3 separate regions of the Homo sapiens genome follow, and all the other regions are reported to be linked to region 3. The links are microRNA targets in miRTarBase. Many come from high-throughput screens and were not tested one by one. Region 3 holds a microRNA gene; each other region holds the end of a gene's coding sequence.
The links. The annotated mature microRNA hsa-miR-4455 reads AGGGUGUGUGUGUUUUU and lies in region 3 at 4,653-4,669, opposite strand. An mRNA with a match to its seed (bases 2 to 7 or 8) in the 3' UTR can be bound and repressed. Matches are read on the target gene's strand: a 7mer-m8 pairs with bases 2 to 8, a 7mer-A1 pairs with bases 2 to 7 and ends in A, and an 8mer does both.

Region 1: the mRNA of CBX1 is a reported target of hsa-miR-4455. Seed matches in the 3' UTR shown: 8mer at 6,107-6,114.
Region 2: the mRNA of LHFPL6 is a reported target of hsa-miR-4455. The part of its 3' UTR that is shown has no 7-base or 8-base seed match.

What each region holds. Positions count from the first base shown.
Region 1 is chr17:48,065,141-48,072,334 of GRCh38, forward strand. It overlaps CBX1 (chromobox 1), which reads right to left. Exons shown (of 5, transcript NM_001127228.2): 5 at 4,919-6,439. The coding sequence ends at 6,295. Among named protein-coding and RNA genes, the nearest start is that of NFE2L1, 20 kb to the left of the region's middle.
Region 2 is chr13:39,338,014-39,345,196 of GRCh38, forward strand. It overlaps LHFPL6 (LHFPL tetraspan subfamily member 6), which reads right to left. Exons shown (of 4, transcript NM_005780.3): 4 at 4,879-6,041. The coding sequence ends at 5,923. Among named protein-coding and RNA genes, the nearest start is that of LHFPL6, 260 kb to the right of the region's middle.
Region 3 is chr4:184,933,769-184,940,969 of GRCh38, forward strand. It overlaps MIR4455 (microRNA 4455), which reads right to left and starts at 4,672; the gene lies at 4,615-4,672. RefSeq lists a silencer at 6,867-7,161.

The DNA of each region.
Region 1 (7,194 bases), not on the chromosome of region 3:
TGTCATTTTGTCAATATACCAAAAATAACCTTTCTTTTTACCTTTACTGTATTACACAGAAGTCAATCATCTTCCTTGCCTCCCGCTCTGAACTTTGGAGTGGAGAATGAGCCATTTGGGGACTATGGGGAAACTTACCACTATGTGTGAAACTTTACAAGTTCTAGTCCTTGTTCTGTTCAGTTCGTGTCTGCCTGAATTAGCCGAGAAACAGAATTTAGTACACGTATTGTCTCTGGAGTAGTGTGAGAATCTGGTACCTTGCAGAAGAGGGCTGTTTTCAAAAATTAGCTGGATAGAAGTCTTTGTCTTCCCTTTTGAATACACCATACCAACAAAGGTCTTAAAGCTGTTTTTTTTTTTTTTTGAGACGGAGTCTTGCCCTGTCACCCAGGCTGGAGTGTAGTGGCGCAATCTTGGCTCACTGCAAGCTCCGCCTTCTGGGTTCACGCCATTCTCCTGCCTCAGCCTGCCAAGTAGCTGGGACTACAGGCGCCCGCCACTGCGCCCAGCTAATTTTTTTGTATTTTTAGTAGAGATGGGGTTTCACCATGTTAGCCAGGATGGTCTTGATCTCCTGACCTCATGATCCGCCCGCCTTGGCCTCCCAAAGTGATGGGATTACAGGCGTGAGCCATCGCGCCCAGCCTGCTGTTTTGGTTTTTTTTTTGGAGACAGGATCTAGCTTTGTCACCCACGCTGGAGTGCAGTGGCGCGATCTTGGCTCACTGTAATACTGCCTCTAGGCTCAAGCTATTCTCCCACCTCAGCCTCCTGGTAGCTGGCATACAGGCGTGCATCACCATGCCCGGCTAATTTTTGTATTTTGGGTTTCGCCATGTTGTCCAGTCTGGTCTTGAACTCCTGAGTTCAAGCGATCTGTCCGCCTCAGCCTCCAAAGTGCTGGGATTACAGGTGTGAGCCACTGCGCCCAGTCCTAAAGCTGCTTCTTTTCCAGCCTAACTTAAACTGCAGAATGGAGATAGGTTGCACAGTATTTTTTACTTAATTCTAGATGCTCTTCAACTAAGGAAACAAAAAATCTAGTTCACCTGGGGAGAGGTGGAGAATAGACCAAGGAGTTGGCATTCTGCCTTTTGTGTCAAACACAAGTGTAACTGGGGTAATAACAGTTGACTTGAACTTTCCAATTCTCAATTAGGGGCTGAAGCAGTAATTGAAATGGGCTAGTGTCCCAAAGCCAGGCGTCAAAGTTGCCCAGCCTGACCCTAACTATGCAAATAGCAAAAAGGGCAGGCTTGGTCAAAGTCAACTAGGATTTAAAAATCCATTTGGGGTAAACAGTGGCTTTGGTACTATCACAAACCACCATACAAACCAACAAGGTCACAAGGCAGACCCAATTGTGCTGCTGGTATATTGTAAAACAGGTTATTTAATACAACCAAAAACTACAGAAGCTGAATTGTCAGCACCTATTCTAAACTTGATATTTAGCCTTCCCTCACTTTTGCCACTTCATTAGCCTAAGAAAAAAAAAACAAAACAAAAAGCCTTTAAAAGGCACTGCTCTGCTTGCCCCCACAAAGGAGGGCCAACTGTGCTTTTCATCCCAGCAGGATGGTTTTATTTCACATTTCATTTGTTTTCAACATTCAGTAGTTTATTCAACAGTCAACAGGAAACTTACAAGGCCAAGGTCAATTAAGTCATCCATAAGAGAAACAAGTAACTTTAAACTTCACACACTAGATAGGAAAGCAGTAACTTTTGGGGAAAAAACCTCAGTGCTGGACATCGTCAAAACAAGGTGATGTGCAGATCCACAGATTGACAAGTTGTCTTGGGATCTTAAGCTCTCCTCTATCAAACTCCTGTAATCCCACACCAAAACACTAGGATGCCTCTCCCTGATCATTGTTTCCTAGTGCTGAAAGCCAAGACTCCTTTATTAAGTTGAACGCTAATACTGAGCCTGGACTTAGTTCAGTTCTATCAGCTTTAAATTATAAATAAGAACATATCTTCATCAGAAGACCCAACTTGCACATTAATCCAAGCTATCATTTTCCCTTTTACTATGAGAAATAATTGCTTTATAATGCAGATTCCCAATGCCACAGTCCATAAAGATGTGCCAAGCACACAGACAAACCCCAAATGGCGCAAGTTTAACATCAAATTGAGCCAAGTCTATGGCCACCACAGAATTGAGAGTTCTGGAATATAAGGTCATATCTGAAAACAGGTATTTAAAAATTTAATTAGGCAAGGTGCAGTGGCTTACACCTGTAATTCTAACACTTTGGGAGGCAGAGACAGGAGGACTGCTTGAGCCCAGGAGTTCGAGACCAGCCTGGGCAACACAGTGAGACCCCATCTCTACTAAGTTAAAAAAAAAAAAAAGAAAAAAAGAATTAGCTGGGCATTATGGCACACACCTGTAGTCCCAGCTCAGGAGGCTGAGGTGGGAGGATCCCTTTAGCCCAGGAGGATGAGGCTGCCGTGAGCCATGGTAGCACCACTGCACTCTAGACTAGGTGACAGAGACCATTTCTCTCCTCAAAAAAATAAATAAAAATTTAATTACTAAAAATCACTTAAAATTGGTCGTCAAAATTTTCAAATGATATTAAATGCAGGAACAATTATTCCTCAGCACTGTCAGAGTGTTTCTGTGGTCATTATTCCATCCATTTACAATACTAAATAGAAACTTACTTAAGGCAATGGAGGAGCAAGATTTTTGTTTAATGGCTCTACCAGTACAGGACACCTCAGGTAATAATGATGTCACAATATTAACAAGCTCCCCTTTTCTAATAGTAACTAAGATAATTTATTGCCTCTTTAATTCCTGGGCAGGTCTATGATGGTGCAATTTCATGGAAACCACCCAACAAACATGTTTTTCCACTGCCTGAAGAAATATTCTTTGGCTGGGAGTGGTGGTTCACGCCTATAATCCCAGCACTTTGGGAAGCCAAGGCAGGTGGATCACTTGAGGTTAGGGGTTCGAGACCAGCCTGGCCAACATGGTGAAACCTCATCTCTACCAAAACTACAAAAATTAGCCAGGTGTAGTGGGGCATGCCTGTAGTCCCAGCTACTCGGGAGGCTGAAGCAGGAGAATCGCTTGAACCCAGGAGGCGGAGGTTGCAGTGAGCTGAGATTGTGCCACTGCACTCCAGCCTGGGTGACAGCGAGACTCTGTCTCAAAAGAAAAAACAAAAAACAAAGAAATATTCTCTGAATACTTTCTCAAGCTGACCTAAGATTTGTTGTGCCTACTTATAACAGTTTGAATTTGTGGCCTCAACAATCAAAAAAGTTGATCCTTAAACTACTGATCTAGTAATATGCCAATTGGCTTTTGAAAATAACAAAATTGTGACTACCTAGCTTCAACTCAGTTTTCACTGCATGCCTATCAGTATTACTGTTTTCTCTGGGGGAGAATGATACAGTTTTTACAACAGCTCAGGAATGCCACAAATGACAAGTCAGTCAGTTCCAAAGGTTAAGACCAAAGCTGACTAGCAGTCCATTTGGGATACAAACCAAGGCTGTAGTTTCATTTCAGTGCATCTGATGGTGCAGAACAGAACCAGAACACCTCCACTTAAACTCCCTTAATTAGCTACCGACTGCTGTGCTACTGTCAACCACCACCAGGGCACACACTCAGACCTCTGTGCGGGAAGGCCTGTCTGTGACCCAGACCTTCAGTAAGGCTCCCCAGCTCCACTTATGTCTCCTGAGAACTTTCCTGAGGAGGCTTTCTGAAAAAATTATCTACACATCAGTTTATTTTAAACAAATGCTTTGCACGAGTGAGTAGTACTCAACTGTTACACTGATTTGTTCTCAGTGGAAATCCTATGTCTGTTACAAAAATGACAAGTTGGCCGGATGTGGTGGCTCATTCCTGTAATCCCGCACTTTGGAAGGCCGAGGCGGGCGGATCATGCGGTCAGAAGATCAAGACCATCTTGGCCAACATGGTGAAACCCTGTCTCCACTAAAATACAAAAAATTAGCCGGGTGTGGTGGTGCACGCCTGTAGTCCCAGCTACTCAGGAGGATGAGGCAGGGGAATCGCTGAACCCAGGAGGCGGAGGTTACAGTGAGCTGAGATCGCACCACTGCACTCCAGCCTGGCAACAGAGCAAGACTAAAAAAAAAAAAATAAAAAAAAATAAAGGCAAGTCCAAGGCCAGGCACAGTGGCTCATGCCTGTAATCCCAGCACTTTGGCAGGCCGAGGCAGGTGGATCACCTGAGGTTAGGAGTTCGAGACCAGCCTGGCCAACATGGCAAAACCCCATCTCTACTAAAAAAATTTAAAAATTAGCCAAGTGTGGTGGCACGCGCCTGTAGTCCCAGCTACTCTGGAGGCTGAGGCAGGAGAATCGCTTGAACCTGGGAGGCAGAGGTTGTAGTGAGCCGAGATCACACCACTGTACTCCAGCCTGGGTGACAGCAAGACTCCATCTCAAAAAAAAAAAAAAAAAATCATAGGCAGAAAATGACGTTTTAAATCAGTGCGCAAACACAGGGCCAAATTCCTGGAAAATTTTGGAGAAGTAGATTTTAGCCAAGGTCATATAATCTATTACATACCATAGGCAGGATCTAAACCTAACTTAAAAACCCATGTTTCCAAATATACCATAGTTTGGAAGTGCTATCAGGTCAGAGTGCTCAATAAACTTTTGGCAGTACTGAAGACAGCATGATGCGACCATCTTTACAACCTCTGCAGCAACTGATAAATGCCCAGTAAGTATTTACTAAATTAACATGGTGTGACCACTTAAAGATTCAGGCCAGGCACTAGATTTTCAAGCCTACAGTGTTCAAGAAATAAAACCATTCAAGTGAGGAAGCCATTTCCAACAGGCTGAACCTATAAGGCAAGAAGGGTTCCTGGTAAGACTTAAGACAGAAATCAGGGATTATAAATCTATAGTTTTATTAAGACAAAAACTGACAATGTAGTATGAAGTTTACATTTAAACAAAGTTTACACAGAAATCTAACACATGCCTAAAAGAATTTTACAACGTAGCTCTAGATGCAAGTCTAGACAATATCAAGAACTGATGGTTCTCATGACTCAAGACAGAGCATTTTGGGTATGTTACTTATTAGGATTTCTTAAAAAATTGTTTTGTGTGTGTATGTGTGTGTTTTAAAGTGAACCACTGCCCAATATGAAAGTTTAATCTTCTCCTGAGACCAAGGCTTTTGAAATCACTAAACTCTTGGATCAATTCAGTGAAACTTGTGCTGTCAGTGACTGAACCCTGCCAACAATGGTTTCAGTGTTCAAAGCTCAAAGTAAACGGCTCCAAGAGTTTTCCCCACTAAGAGCATGGGCCCTTGTCTTTCCCTACTGTCTTACCTCCTCTACCACCCTCTTCCTCTTCCTAACACCTCAGCCAGTGGCTTGGATGAACAAGCTGATATTTATAACTTCGTTACTGGAAAAGAAAGGGTCTTCTAATTTCGGGAATTAGCACCTCTAAGGCAGAATGATCTGCTTGTACTGTATACTCTCCAATAAAAGACCTTCCCTCCTCGTCAATTTCCATCTCCAAAATGGCAACTTTGGTAACTTATGAACAGGCTTAGTCCTTTGTGGGAACAGCAATAAGTTTAGGCAGGGAACACCTTGGCTTATAGGTTTCAGACTTTCACAGCTTTTAAACAGTCTCTCACAGTCCTTATTTATGGTGCCAATGACATTTTTTTAAAGGTAAAATATTCTGGACATAGAAGCAAATCATTAGTTGTCTGTTCTTTTCCATTGCTTCACCATTTCCCCTATCAGGCCCCAAATGTTAATCAAAATGATGCTACCCATCTCCCTTTCTCCCCTCCCCATCCCTCCCTCCCCCAAATAATACACCAGTAATAGCCAAAAACTACACACATGCTACGCTGTAAAAATGCAGAGTTAACACTATTGGGAAGAAGGCTGTGGGTTGTGGAGATGCTCTTTGAAGATCTACAGTATTTTTTTGCTCTCCCACACACCCAATTCTGCAAGTTTTGTCCTTCATAGAAGGCCCTTTGCTTTTCGCAGCAAAGTGCAGAAAAGGTTGCCTTGAAACACTTATCCCCTTTCCCCTCCACTGGGATGGGTGTGCAAACTATACAGCTTGAAACGGCTTTAAAGCACTTGGGCTGCTGCAGGGCACAGAAACTATACTGGCTCTTCAAAGGACATCTTCTCAAGCCACCTCTATGGTGTCAAGACAAGTAGAACTCCTTCCCTTCCCACTTGAAACCCACAGTCAGATGTGACAGGGGCTGGTACTCAGGAGCGTTAGTTCTTGTCATCTTTTTTGTCATCATCCTCCGAGGGGTAGGAATGCCACGTCAGCCTTTCCTCATAGAAGGATATGACAACCTGTGGGCACTTGACATTGGCTTCCTTGGCAGGGACCAGGTCAGCCTCATCAGAGTTTTTCCTGCAGAATAAAGCAAAGAGAGACTTTGAGACCAGGTGCTGGTGGTCTATCCTAAGTTGGATAACCCAGGGGACAGTGCTTTAAAAATGGTAATTTTAGAAAAATAGGCTAGGGAACAATGAAAACGTGGCCCAAGCAGCATTTACTGGCAATTGTATGTCAAGTGACATCCTCAGAGTTAACTCTCCTGTTGAAAATTCCCTCTGGGGATTCGTGTATGTCAAAAGCCAGGTCAATGGACTTAACCAATCACATCTGAACATCTGGGCAAGGCCCCAAAAAGCATGACTCTCTAGATTCTCTGAGGGAAGAGAGGATACCTAGATTCTCTGAGGGAAGAGAAGTTACCACACTCCTCCAAAAGCCATATCCCAGCTGATAAGAACCCATGGAGAAATCTTGGCTTTGTAATAGGATTTTTTTTTTTTTTTTTTTGAGACAGAATCTCACTCTGTTGCCCAGCCTGGAGTGCAGTGGCATGATCTCGGATCACCACAACCTCCACCTCCTGGGTTCAAGCGATTTTCCTGCCTCAGCCTCCCCTAATAGCTGGAATTATAGGTGTGCGCCACCACACCCAGCTAATTTTTGTATTTTTAGTAGAGATGGGGTTTTGCCATCTCTACTAAAGATGTTGGCCAGGCTCATCTTGAACTCCTGACATCAGGTGATCCACCTGCCTCAGCCTCCCAAAGTGTTGGGATTACAGGCATGAGCCACCTCGCCCGGCCCGTAATAGGATTAAATACCACATC
Region 2 (7,183 bases), not on the chromosome of region 3:
TTTCAAAAGTGTCAGAAAGCTTAAAATTAAAAAGTTTATAAAGTAAAAAAGTTACAGTAAGCTAAAGTTAATTTATTGTTGAAGAAATAAAAATATTTTTATTAATTTATAATAGCCTAAATGTACAGTGTTTATAAAGTCTACACTAGTGTATGGTAATATCCTAGGCCTTCACATTCACTTACCACTCACTCACTGATTCACCCAGAGCAACTTCCAGTCCTGTAAGCTTCATTAATAGTAAGTGCCCTATATGGGTGCACCATTTTTAATTATTTTATTTTTTATTTTATTTTATTTTATTTATTTTATTTTATTATTTTATTTTATTTTTGAGACTGAGTCTCGCTCTGTTGCCAGGCTGGAGTGCAGCGGCATGATCTTGGGTCACTGCAACCTCCGCCTCCCAGGTTCAAACGATTCTCCTGCCTCAGCCTCCCGAGTGGCTGGGACTTCAGGCACGTGCCACCATGGCCTGCTAATTTTTGTATTTTTAGTAGAGATGGGGTTTCACCATGTTGGCCAGGATGGTCTCGATCTCCTGACCTCGTGATCCGCCCGCCTCGGCCTCCCAAAGTGCTGGGATTACAGGTGTGAGCCACTGCGCCTGGCCCATTTTTAATTTTTTATACCATTTTTTCACTGTTCCTTTCTATTTTAGATATGTTTAGATGCGCAGATACTTGTTATTGTGTTACAGTCACCTACAGTATTCAGTACAGTAACACGCTGTACAGGTTTAAAGCCTAGGAGCAACAGGTCATACCATACAGCCTAGGTGTGGAGAAGGCTGCACTATCTAGGTTTGTGTTAGTACACTCTATGATGTTCCCACAATGACAAAATTGCCTAACAACGCATTTCTTGGAATACATCTCCATCATTAAGCAATGCATAATTATATACCTAAAATTTCTCCTGAGCCTCAGCCCTTAATTTTCAACTACCTGCTAAGCATCTGTGTCTGGATATCTCACAGGTAATTTACACATACCAAGTCCTTAATTACACCAATTTTTGTGTGCGTCTTAAAAGGCCTTTATTTTTATTTGAAGTTTGTTTTTGTTTTTGAAGGATTTTTCTTGGGTATAGAATTTTATTTAGGTTGATGGTCTATTCCTTTATTTTTGTTATTTTTTAATTGACAATAATTGTATATATTTACTGTGTACAATGTGATGTTTTGATGTATGTATGCACTGTAGAATATGTTCTTTTCATGTCTTATCTCTATCTGTGGCACCCTCATCCACCCAACTCTCTTCCTTCCCTCTGTCTCTATTCCAAGGACCTACTGAGTTTATCCTGTTCTCTCTAATAGTTTCCCAGCCTCTCCATCTCTATTAATTTGGCCCAGTTTGGCCCTATCATTTCACACCTTGACATCCCCCTATTTGTTCACTTCCTTTTCCCAATCACTTAGACCATAGTAGATGCTCCGCTTTCTGTTGGTGGAATGATTACACTGTAACAATCTCTCTCCCCACTTCTGCCACCCAGTGTCTCACAATACTTCCTCCAGGGATCTAGTTAAGAAACATAAGTTGTTCATGCCACATCTTCCCCTATGTCAGATCCTCCCACTGCCTCCAATATCCATTTTAAATTTTGGTCCTTTTAGCATGGTACCCAAAGCACTGCCTGCCCTTCTCCCACCTCATCTTCCACCTGCCCAAATGCACCCCAACTGCTGCCATGTGAGATGACCCACAGTTCCATTAACCTTTAAGGCCCTCCATGCTTTTCTCTTTGATTAAGGCGCCATTAGAACACGATAAAGTGCAGTCTTTAAATGCATGTTATCAGTGGATTTTTGGCAAGTGTATACATCCATGTGGACACCACTCCAATCAATATGTAGAACATTTCCTTCATCCCAGAAAGTCCTGTTTCGTCCTCACCAGTCAATTCTCCCACCCACATAAGAGGGTAACCATTATTCTAATTTCCATGACCATGTATCAATTTTCCTCTGTGCTTCTTTTGCTCAACAGAATGTCTGTGGGATTCATCCAAGTTGATGTGTATACCATGTGTTCATTCCTTTTATTGCTGAGTAGTATTCCACTATCTAAATACACCACAATTTATGTATGTGCTGGTGAACATTTGAGTTGCTCCCAGTTTAGGGTTATTATGAACAAAATTGAAATGAACATTCTTATGTAATCTTTTTGTGAACATAGTTTTGTTTTGTTTTTTTGGCACAAATACCTAGGAAGGGAATTACTATGGTTCACTTAATAAAAATGTACCTATTGCTTTTCCAGCCATGTGTCCACATACTCAGCAACATTTGGTGTTGTCAATATTTTGTTTTAGTTGTTCTAGTGTATGTTAAGCAACATTTCATTGTGGTTCTGGAAGTTTCATTTTCTTCTCAACTAATGATGTTGAACACCTTTTCAGTGTAATTGGCCACTGGTATATTGTCTTTTGGGAAATACCCCATTCATGTTTTTACCCTTTAAAAATGGATTGTCCTTTTTATTATTCATTTGAGAGAGTCATGTATGTACTCAGAATACAAGTTCTTTACCAGATATATAACTTTTTCCAGTCGTTGACACATCTTTTTATTTTCTTAATGATGATTTTTGAAGAGCAGAACATTGTAATATATCATCTTTCATCTTTCTTTATACCTTTTTAATTTGTCTGTGCAGAATTCTTTACTTGGGAGGAACTTCCTCCCTGTCTTTGAGAATTAGTTGACATATGATTTGGTAATCACTGATGCTCCTGTTATTTTTTTCCATGAGCTTATGACTGACTTGAGAGCATGGGCTGTATTTTATTTAGCGTTTTATGTCTAGTAGAATACCTACCAAGTAGCAGGTGTTCAATGACTAGAGTCAATTAAATTTCATCAATTCACTTCTTTGCATGTCATTTTCTCTTCCTAAAAACAAGGTAAACTCCCCATTTACTGCACAGGCATGTGCAAGCAATGAAAGCTTTTAAGGTTGTGAAAATTGAGCTTTTTATTGTCTCTCATGTGTATATCAGTAAGAATGCTGTGAATATATACTTTTCACTGACTTTGTTATTGTTATTAGCTTATGAATTGTGATTTTCATTTCAAAAGCAGTATATGTAATTCTTAATAACTTAGATGTTCCTATTAAAATGCTGGGACATCTTGAGCAAAAAAAAAAAAAAAAAAAATGATATGACTAGCCAGAATTTGCCATTGCCATATAAGAGTTTGTCATTTGACTTTACCAGTAGAGTGGCTGATCTTTTATTCCAGTGAGGCTCACTAATGTCTAAAATCACATGAACTACATAAAAATGACAATGTCATCATTAAATCTGTCCAAGGAACTAGATCTTAATGAATTCCCTAGAGAACTCCAACTTGATAATGGGAGCTAAGAAGTCACAACACTACTCTACAGGAAGGTGCAGTTAAAAGAAATTTGAAAAGCACCAGCTATACATGAAAATAATGGGCTAATTGAGGAAGCAAAGTGCAATCTTTTCTTCTCTGCCGGAAACCACAGAGTGGAGAAGCCCCTGCTCAGCAGACAATGAGACACAATCAAATCACATTCAGCACAATATGAATTAAGCATCTGAGAGTGGAATGACTTTCTCCACACCAACAAAGCCTCAGAGTGTAGAATTTTATTGGTCAGATCCTGTATTGTTCTTCCAGAGCAGCATGGCTTCTCATCCTGGAATGATTAAAAGTACCAGAAGCAAGTGGAATAGTCAGATATTCAAACTAAATTGATAAATGTGTATAGATAGCATAGAAAATGTACTTACATGAATAAATAGCCAGCATGTTCAATTGCCAAATCTGAAAAGTACAATGAATGTAGAAGCTAACTGAAACTGAATTCTTAAGGATTTGCTACAATATCTCAGGCTTACTAAACAAAAGGCTAGATCCAATATTCAGAATGCAATCTTTGCTCCTGAAGGAGCTAGTTTTTGTTATTTGTTATTATTTATTTATTTTTTTGGTGGGGACAGGGTCTCGCTCTGTTGCCTAGGCTGGAGTGCAGTGTTGCAATCTCGGCTTACTGCAGCCTCCACCTCCTGGGTTCAAGCGATTCTTGTGCCTCAACCTGAGTAGTTGGGATTACAGGAGTGCATGACTATGCCCAGCTAATAATTTTTTTTTTTTTTTGGTATTTTTAGTAGAGATGGAGTCTTGCCATGTTGGCCAGGCTGGTCTCGAACTCCTGGCCTCATGTGATTTCCCCACCTCGGCTGGGATTACAGGTGTGAGCCATCACACCTAGCCCTGAAAGAGCTAGTTCTGTTAAGGGGCCATGTGAGGGTCCAAACCTTTCTCTTTGGTGAAGACTTTCTGCTGGAGGGGCAGGGCTGTTGAGATAAGCTTTTTCAAATGGCCAACATCCCTGAAGGGCAGTGATATAAAATTTTCCCTGACACAGAAGTACAGAAGAAACCCAGCACTTTGTAGAAGCTGGAGGAACAGCAAGTCACTGGCAACTGTAACAGTCGTGTCACCATGCTGGTGACTGTCAGTCCAGTCACCTCCTGAACCACAGTCTAGCTCTTGTTGCCCTAAATCACATCTGAATACCACCCATATTCTCAAACTTAATACAAAACAGACCTGAAGTTCTTCTGTCCTCAGAATTTGGTTATGATTGAAATGTAACAAGCAGGAAGTTAGAATTCTGGTTGCAAAGAATTCACGTTGAAAGCAGAAACTGTCTTACTCATCTTTAATACACTTGTGCCTAGAACAATGCCTGGTTGATTAGTGAGTGAATTAATGAGAGGCCTTAAAAGAGAAAAGGAAATTTTACAGGACTATAGTAGTTGAAGAGCTACATTGGAGAAATTAAAGAAGCAAATCCGATGACTGAATTAACACTCCATGACTCATCTAGCTATTGATCAAAGAGAGAATTTATTCACAGAGATTTTCAAATACAAACAAAATAGCACTTTTAAATTTTTTACAAAATGAATATAGAAATAAATGTGGTACAGCACAGTACAATAATGGACAAAAGAAAACACGATCCAATGACTGGAAAATGTCTCTCATTACTCTCATATCTTCGGCTGAATTCTCTCCTATAGTGGACAGAAAGTTGCCCCTTTTCTTCATAAGAATATCATAGCAGAAGCTACTCAGAGAAATATTGCATATTGTGGAATAACATGGAAATACAAAGGCTTAACTCTAAAGGTCTGCATAAACACTGAAAATATGTTGAGGAACTAAATTAGAGTTTATGCAGGATATACAAAATACTGATAGTTTGGCTTATTGGTCCATTTATTAGGCTTAATGTATGTTTTATAAAGTGATAATACTGTATTTTAAATGTATATTAAAAAGAAAACAGAGGAGAAATGCACCACTAAACCTCCCAGTCTGTGCGATAATCCACGTTTGTGCATAGGCGTGTGTGGGGATGCATATGTCTGTATGTGCTTGTGTGCTTTTGGGAGTGCCGTGACCTACAGGGAACATCTTTGGGGGTACCCTGCTTCCCAACATAACACTGTTTCTACTAGCCCTTTGATTTTCTGAGTCCTCACCTTAAAAAAAAAAAACTAAAACCCAAACCCTTGTTTGTATATGTAGATTTGTTGTGTGTGTGTGTGTGTGTGTGTGTGTGTGTGTGTGTGTGTGTGTGTTGTACATTAACAATACTCTGTGGAATAGAAACACCCGATGCCCTGCAATATTTTTAGCCTTTGGTCCATTTTTCTCCATCATTCTATACTCTCCTTTTTTTTCCCCCACAAATCTCCTACAATCCTTCCTTCCTATATCATGTTCCTGATTTTATCGGGTTTCATTTTATTAGCATTGTATTGGATTAGAACTACTATCCCACCTTTTGAAGGTAGGTGGATGTTTTGACCTCTCCAAGCCCCTTTGGCCCATCTTCTCCTCTGTCTGCTCTTGGTAGCTCCATCTCAGTATGGGTAGTGCTTCTGTTTCTTGCCCGAAAAGCAAGCCAGCCACGTGCACAGCAGCATGGCGGCAGTGGCACCTGCTCCCGTGCAGTAGTAGGCCCAGCCGATTTCACACTTCCCTAAGGACAAAGGAAGGGGAAAGAAGAAAGTCACAGATGAGGATGATTTTGCAGCAGGGTTTCTTATTGCTTCCAGTGTGTGGGTTCTGAAACACCCTTTAGGAATATGGTATCCTCGCTTAAATGGAATAATAATGTGCTGAAAGTTATCTTGACAGTGAAGAAAGCAAGAATGGCTGGATGCATTTCAGAAGGATCTCAATGTCTACCTCTCACACGGGCTAAGAGAAGTCTAGTCTCCTCCACCAATATCCACACCCTGGCCAAAAATAGAGAAGAATGGCAGCAACCAGGATAGGAGATGAAGGAGTTAATTGTAACTTACATCACCCAAGCTCACCTGCGTAACAAAGTACTTTAGGGAAAAAAATATAAATGTTGATGCAATCCTTCTGCAAAAGGGCCACTTTGAGGAGGCAACCCATTTGAAGGATAATGGCTAATGCTAAGGTGAATACTGCCATTTATGTGGAATGGTCAAGTGACTTACTCTCTACTGTCTGAATCAGAAAACAAAAATTCCCAGATTCTTCTGGGATCAACACTCACCTTGAAGATAAAGTGTCATTTAAATGAAAATATAATGACAAGCATCCAAGTGGGTCCTGATTTCTCAGAGTTGGATTAGTCTTAATATTCATAACAAACCCAAAATATTAAAAATATGTAAGTAGATTTATTTATCTGTATTGTCTTTGTCAATTCTTTTATCAACATTATAAGGTAGAATACTAGCTCAACATGGTTGACAAAAAAGCTTCTCAGCATTTAAAGAAGTTGGTGACTTACCCATAGTCATATGCTTATAATTTGGAATAAAGTGAGCCAGGGCTCAAATCTGGGTTCTAGATCCCAAGAATAGGTCGGTGTCCCCAGATGGGTTAATGGAATGGATTTCTGCATTCATTAGCTTTTTCTTTCTTAATGACATCCAAGTTATTCTTTTTGTGTGCACAGTAAAGAAGGCCTCTATATCTTATACTGGACACTGTACTTTCTGCTTCAATTCTAATTCATTTTTCAGCCGGTCTTACCATCTTATCAGATGATGCTCCAACAGCAACCATGTTCCTCCTTTTGGTTCTTGCTTTGCATTACATTAGATACAAACATAAACACCAAGACATTTGGATTTCACAGTC
Region 3 (7,201 bases):
GCAGTTTCCTTTTATAACAGATGAATTCCTCTGTAAAGTCCTCAAAACATCAAGCATTTCCAGTGCTCTTGGAATGAAATTCAAGGAATATAAATTATATTCACACAGTGCCTCTAGAATACACATTTTGTGTGAAGTTAGAAGAAAAATTGCTTTTTTATTTAAAGTAAATTATAATGAACTAGATCAGCTTTTTTTTTTTTTTCTCACTCAGCCTACAAACTAGTTGACAGCAGTGATTATCCGTTGTTGAAAACAGCAGACAACTGTCTTGATGACTTCCATTTTCAGGTTTCTGAGGCTGGGGTGGGGGCGGTTGCGGGGAGAGGCAACTCCTCAGAATCTTTATTAGATTCTCTGCTAAGTAATAATACAAACATGAAGTAGGGAAATCAAGGTAATATCCCTTCAAAGTGAGGTTTCTTTTTTCTTATTTCAAATTTATCCTGATAAATGCAAATTAAAACAAGGAGATACCTCTTTACACCTAGCGGAATGTCTAAAAACAAAAACAAAACCCCTGACATTACCAAGTGCTGGTACAGATGGGAAGCAGCTAAGTAAAACCCTCACACATTGCTGGGGAGTGCAAATAGTGCAACCAGTTTGGAAAACAGCTTAGTGGTTTCTTTTAAAGATAAACATTCACTTTTCATATGACTCAGCCATTCCTCTCCTAGGTATCACCCAAGAGAAATGAAAATGTATGTTTCCATAAAAATCTGTATGCAAATATTTATAGCAGCTTTATTCATAATTGCCAAACACTGGAAGCAATCCAACTGTCCATTAACAGGTGAATGTGAAATCGAACTGGAAAATACATACAATGAGATATACCCAGTAATAAAGAGGGATGAACTAGGAATACATACAGCAACTTCTCAAGGGTGTTACACTAAGTGAAATCAACAAATCTCAAAGGTTGCATATTGTGTGATTCCACTTAGGTAACATTTTTGAATTGGAGAACAGATTAGTGATTTCCAGGGACTATAAGTGGCGGGGAAGGAAGGAGTAGAGAGACTACAGAGGCGACGCACGGGGTAGATGTCAGTGGTGGTGGAGGCGGTTCTGATACTGGTTGAGGTGGGGTTATGGGAACGTGCACATGTGATAAAATGGCAAACATGATATTGTTGGGGCTCAGAAAACGGCACCCCAAAGGGAGACCTCAGAAGCAGCTCTCTCTCACCTTCTCCGGTCTTCCTGTCACTGGCCCCTGATTCTCCCCTGAAGCTAGTCATGGAAACTAGAATCCCTCCTACCCAAGTGGCCTTTCTGTGTAAAAACTGGACATAAGGAAATTATCTGACCCACCTTGTTTGACTTTAGGTCATGAGAACCCCATTCCAGAGAGGGCCCTGCCCCACACCCAGAAAGAAAGAATGCTGCCCAGAGAGGCCAAGAAGAATCCGGACAGACAGGCCTCGCCGGGTTTCCCTACTCAGTCTCTCAGCATTAGATGTTACCCTTTTTGTCCAATAGTATCTCTACACGGCTGCCCATACCTAAGCATAAAAATGGATGGTTTCCCCTGTATCTTTGAGCTCTTATGTCACATAAAACTCTGATTAAATAAATGTGCATGCCTTTCCTCCTTTTTTTTTTTTTTTTTGAGACGGAGTCCCACTCTGTTGCTCAGGCTGGAGTGCAGTGGTCCCGTCTTGGCTCACTGCAACCTCCGCCTCCCAGGCTCAAGCAATTCTCCTGCCTCAGCCTCTCCAGTAGCTGGGATTACAGATACGCGCCACCACGCCTGGCTAATTTTTGTATTTTTCGTAGAGACGGGATTCCACCATAGTTGGCCAGGCTGGTCTCAAACTCCTGGGCTCAAGCGATCCACCCGCCTCAGCTTCCCAAAGTGCTGGGATTACAAGTGTGAGCCACCATAATCCCTTTTCTCCTATTAATCTGCCTTCTGTCAGTTGATTTTCAGCAAACATTCAGAGGGCAAAGCGGCAGTTTTCCCTCCACTCCTACAATGTCAGCATCAATGTCCTGCTCCTGATGGCATGCTGTAATTGTATAAGATGTAGCCATTGGAGGAAACTGGCTGAAGGGTACAAGGGACCACTTGGTATTGTCTTTGCAGCTTCCTCTGACTCTATAATTACCTCAAAATTAAAAGCTTATATATATGATAATAAAGTTATATATCATGTATATGTTACATATACATATAAGCACACACAAACATGCATGTATATACACACATGCATTCATAAACATATTGTTGTAGGAGTTACTAAGAAATTATTTTAGGCAGATAGAGAGGAGAAGGGGTCCTTGGGAAGTTTTCATTTCTTTTAAAGCACCTCCAAAAACGTTTCTTGTCTAGCAGAAAAGCTCCGGCTCTTAGAGCTGAGCTGGCAACCTTTAGTATGCAAACGCCAGCCATTAGAAACTGGATCCACCCAACATGGCGATTCCCATCATTGTCCTCTTGCCCTTGCCCCACACGTTCCTGGCAACATGGCTGCCCCCACATATCCCCAAGTATGTAGAACATCATGGCACCCTGCATTTGCATATTAAAAGACTAGGGTGGGAGGGTCAGTTTTTTTCGAGGGCTACATGAATGACTTACCTGGTCAAACCAATCCCCTGAGCCCTGTGCAAATCAAACACCATCTCCTCCAGCCTCTTCATATAGCTGGCTGGTATCCTGGCATGTGGGGTCTCCTCTTTCAGCTTTGGAGCCCCCCTCCCTCTGTCTCTGTATGGAGGAGCTTCTTCCTTCTGACTTCTCCCATCTTTCTTGCCTATTAAACTCTCTGCTCCTTAAAATCACACCAGGTGTGTCCGTGTCGTTTTTTCCAATTCAACTCGAGAGGAAGAACCTGGTATTCCTCCATTCATCAGAGCTGTATCAATATGATACGATAATATGGGTGAATCTCAAATATATTATGCTAAGTGAAAGAAGCTAGGCACAAGAGGCTACATCCCAAATTACTTCATTTATATGACACTCTGGAAAAGGTCGGACTAGGGACAGAGGATGGATCAGTGGTTCCCAGGGATTCCAGGTGGGGCAGCACGAGGGTGTATAGGATGATAGAGCTGTCCTGTATCCTCTCTGTGGTGGTAATTACTTGAATCTATGTATGTGTTAAAACTTGAAGAACTGTGCACCAAAAAGAGTGAATTTTACTATACATACATTTAAAAGTAAACTTTAAAAAGTGGCTTGTCAGCAATGCACAGAACAGCTCATTTCTATTGCAACAAACTATTGTGATTACTTTTGTATAAGTTACACATTTGGTCTTCACAATTTGAACCCCAATTGTGACACTATGCAAAGGGGGAAAAGTTCCCTGAGATTGTGTGATCAGTAAAAGATTATATTTACATTTAAATATCTTCAGTGTTTTTGACTTTAGCAAGACAAATGAGAATCTTTGATGGTGTTTGGTTTGTTGACCAGCCAGTTCAAATTACAGCTGGGTGGTTACCAAAGCTGGACAGATTACAGTATGGAATTAAAGTCTGAACAGAGTATGGGAATGCTAGCTTGAAACAAAAATAGAGTTTTGGGGAAAAAGAGCTTGGGAATTAATTGCATTCCTTGAATTCATTCCTTGGAAGTGTTTCATGCTGGCTCCCACAGTGGCTCAGGTGTACATGCTTTGTTTAGTAGTTGATCCTTTGAGCCATAGGAATTTTGGAATGTAATATGTTTGTTCTCCACCCACCCCGTGCCCATGAATCTCTTTTAGTAGGTTGATTTATTCACTCTTTAACTTCTATTGCACCTGAGTATACCAACAGTAGGATTAGGCTAGAAAGTATGCAGTCATAAGCTGAAATCAACAGGGACAAGTGATTAACAGGTGGACAGTGTTGAGCTTGCCAGGTCACCACTCTCATGGTCAATATTTTCTTTGTGCTATTTTTGGCTTGGTTCCACATCAGAGAGTTCAAACTCTGAAGTTGTAAAGATACTGCTTTTAAGAAAAATCAGCTCATGTCTGGACCTTGATTTAATCGTTTATTCATCTTTTTATAGTACTCTCTGTTCCCAAGATAAGCTACTTTATAAGGCAAAATTTCCACCTCGGCATCATTTCATATAAACATTTAATGCTGAAACTCCAGGTTACATCTGGCGTCTAATGATGAACGCAGACAGATGCTCCTATCCAGCCATGCCCTCTGCCACTCCGCGGGGTGCTGCTTTCCATTTCCTCTCTGTGTCTGTCAGCACCAGGGCCGAGCTTTTCTTCCGGGATAGATGCTGAGCTGACTCTGCACTCAAAGCGCTTCAAATGATGCTGATTGAAATCAGATGCTATAAAATGTTCATCACTTAGTTTCATTTATTAGTTTAGAGTGGCGTGCTATGCAAGCTTTTTGCTGTTTATTTATATTTTTACTTTAACTTTTATTAAAGTAATACAAGCATGAATTTTATAGAGCCAAACAATTCTACAATGTTCATTAACACAAATAGTAGTTGCTCCTTGCCTCTTCTCCAGAAACACCACTTTCAATTATCTTAGCTAATGCTATTGTCAGTAACCTCTACATCTCTAAATAAAATGCTTATATTGCTTTCCTTGATTTTTCAGCTTTATGCATTCATCTATTGGCTTATCCCTTTGCAAATGAAGAATTTGGCTGTCCTTCCTTCTCTTATTCTCAGGAAAAACACACACACCCTTCTCATCTGCTTATCTTTCTAATCTGGTTATATCATAATTTTTGTTAGCTCTTTGTTGAGCATTTATATGATTACAACCATGAAAATACTAAACTAAGCCATGCATCAAACTATAATGACTTTTCCTATCCTAGCCACTCTTTGCTTCCCTGGATTAAAATTTTATTATTATTATTGATGCTTATCACTAATTCAAACACAAACTCACTTAATTATACAAACATCCTCTTAAGACAGTCAGAGCATCACATATCTTATCAATCCAATCTTCACAAAATCTCTCCCAGATTCTCCAACATACTTCAGTCTAGATCGGCAGTCCCCAACCTTTTTGGCACCAGGGACCGGTTTCATGGAAGACAATTTTTCCACAGACAATGGGGGATGGTTTTGGAATGAAACTGGTCCACCCTAGATCATCAGGCATTAGATTCTCATAGGAGCATGCAACCTAGACCACTCGCATGTGCAGTTCAGAGTAGGGTTCATGCCCCTGTGAGAATCTAATGCCACCAGTGATTCGACAGGAGGCTGAGCTCGGGCAGTAATGCTCACTCACCTGTCATCTATCTCCTGCTGTGTGGCCCGGTTCCTAACAGGCCACCGACCAGTACCAGTCCACAGCCCAGGAGTTGGGGACCCCTAGTCTAGACCGTTCTCAACAACTGGGGCCAAACTGTCAACCTGGGACTTCTCCATCTTCCTGGGAATTCCCTTCACTTCTCTCATGTTGGATCTCCTGTTTCCTGTACGTCTTCTTTCCTGATTTACTCCTTTATCTTGGTGAAGCATATCTTTTAGCAACTTCCTACTATGAAGGAATAAAGGTGCATAGGAAATACAATATCTGGAACATTGCCTTTCTAAGATGTCTTTATTCAATCCTCATACTCAATTGATTTTTTTTTTTTTTTTTTTTGAGATAGAGTCTCGCCGTGTCGCCCAGGCTGGAGTGCAATGGCGTGATCTTGGCTTACTACAACCTCCGCCGCCCAGGTTCAAGTGATTCTTGTGCCTCAGCCTCCCAAGTAGCTGGTACTACAGGCGCCCGCCACCAAGCCCGGCTAATTTGTTTGTATTTTTAGTAGAGACAGGGTTTCACCATGTTGGTCAGGCTGGTCTCGAACTCCTGACGTCAGGTGATCCGCCCACATTGGCCTCCCAAAGTGCTAGGATTACAGGTGTAAGCTAACACACCCAGCCCTTAATTGATATTTTGACTATGTATAGAATTCTGGCTGGGTGGGGTGGCTCACACCTGTAATCCCAGCACTTTGGGAGGCCGAGGTGGGCAGATCACGAGGTCAGGAGATCGAGACCATCCTGGCTAACTCGGTGAAACCCCGTCTCTACTAAAAATACAAAAAATTAGCCGGGCGTGGTGGCAGGCGCCTGTGGCCCAACTACTTGGGAGGCTGAGGCAAGAGAATGGCGTGAACCCAGGAGGCGGAGCTTGCAGTGAGCCGAGATCTCACCACTGCACTCCAGCCTGGGCAACAGAGCGAGACTCTGTCTCAACAAACAAACAAACAACAAAAAAAAAGAATTCTAAGATAGTAGTTATTTTTCTTCAAATGTTTGAAGGCCTTGCTGTCTTGTCTTCTAGCCTCTGCCATTACTGTTGAGAAGCCTGATGACATTCTGATTTGATCCTTTGTATCCTTTAATCTTCTCAGATCCTTTCTTTATCCCAGCAGTTCTAAAGTTTCCCAGTGACATGCCTTGATTTATGTCTGTTTTTATCTACCATGCGTCAGTCTAAAAGCTTACATCATTCTTGTCTGGGAAACTGTTCAAATTACTTACCAAAATATTAACGAATGATTTTTTCCTTTCCATTTTTTTCTGTTCTCTTTTTCTGAATCTCCTATTATTTAGATATTGGACCTCCTGGACTAGTCTTCTAATTTTTTAATTTGTTCTTTTTTTTTTTTTTTTTTTGCTCTACTTTTTGGGAGAGTTCTTCAATTTTATCTTTCAATTTATTAAGTAAGCTTTAAACATTTTCTAGAATGGTTCTAAATGTTTAAAGCTCCTCGTTCTTCAAAAGTCTCATTTTTGTGTCATTCTATTGCTGTTCCAAGGGTGAAATATCTCTTCGTGTCTCTTGAGCTAGTACTGGTAAGTTTTTAAAAGAGCTGCTCTGTTTTGTCCACATTGTTTTTTACATTGGTTTGTCTTGGTCTGGATCTTTCACTTAGAATTTTCCTCACGTGGCTCGAATCCATGATCACGTGCTCATAAGAGCAAGAGGAAACTGAGTATGTGGGTCGTTAACAGTGAACTTCACCCTGGGCTGAGCTGGCCGAACTGTTTCACGGGAAACTCATAATCAGTATCTGTAAGATCTTCTTGGGCTGGTCAGATCCCCACAGGACTTTTTTTAGTCTCTTGCCTGGAGGATAATTGCCTGGCTAGGTTGACAGCATTCTGAGCTAAGGAAGACGGAGAGGACTGCAGGTCTCAGAATCCAGTGAGAATCTACTTACCTAGTCTCCCTATTTCTGGGATAGCACCCACTTCCACCTATGC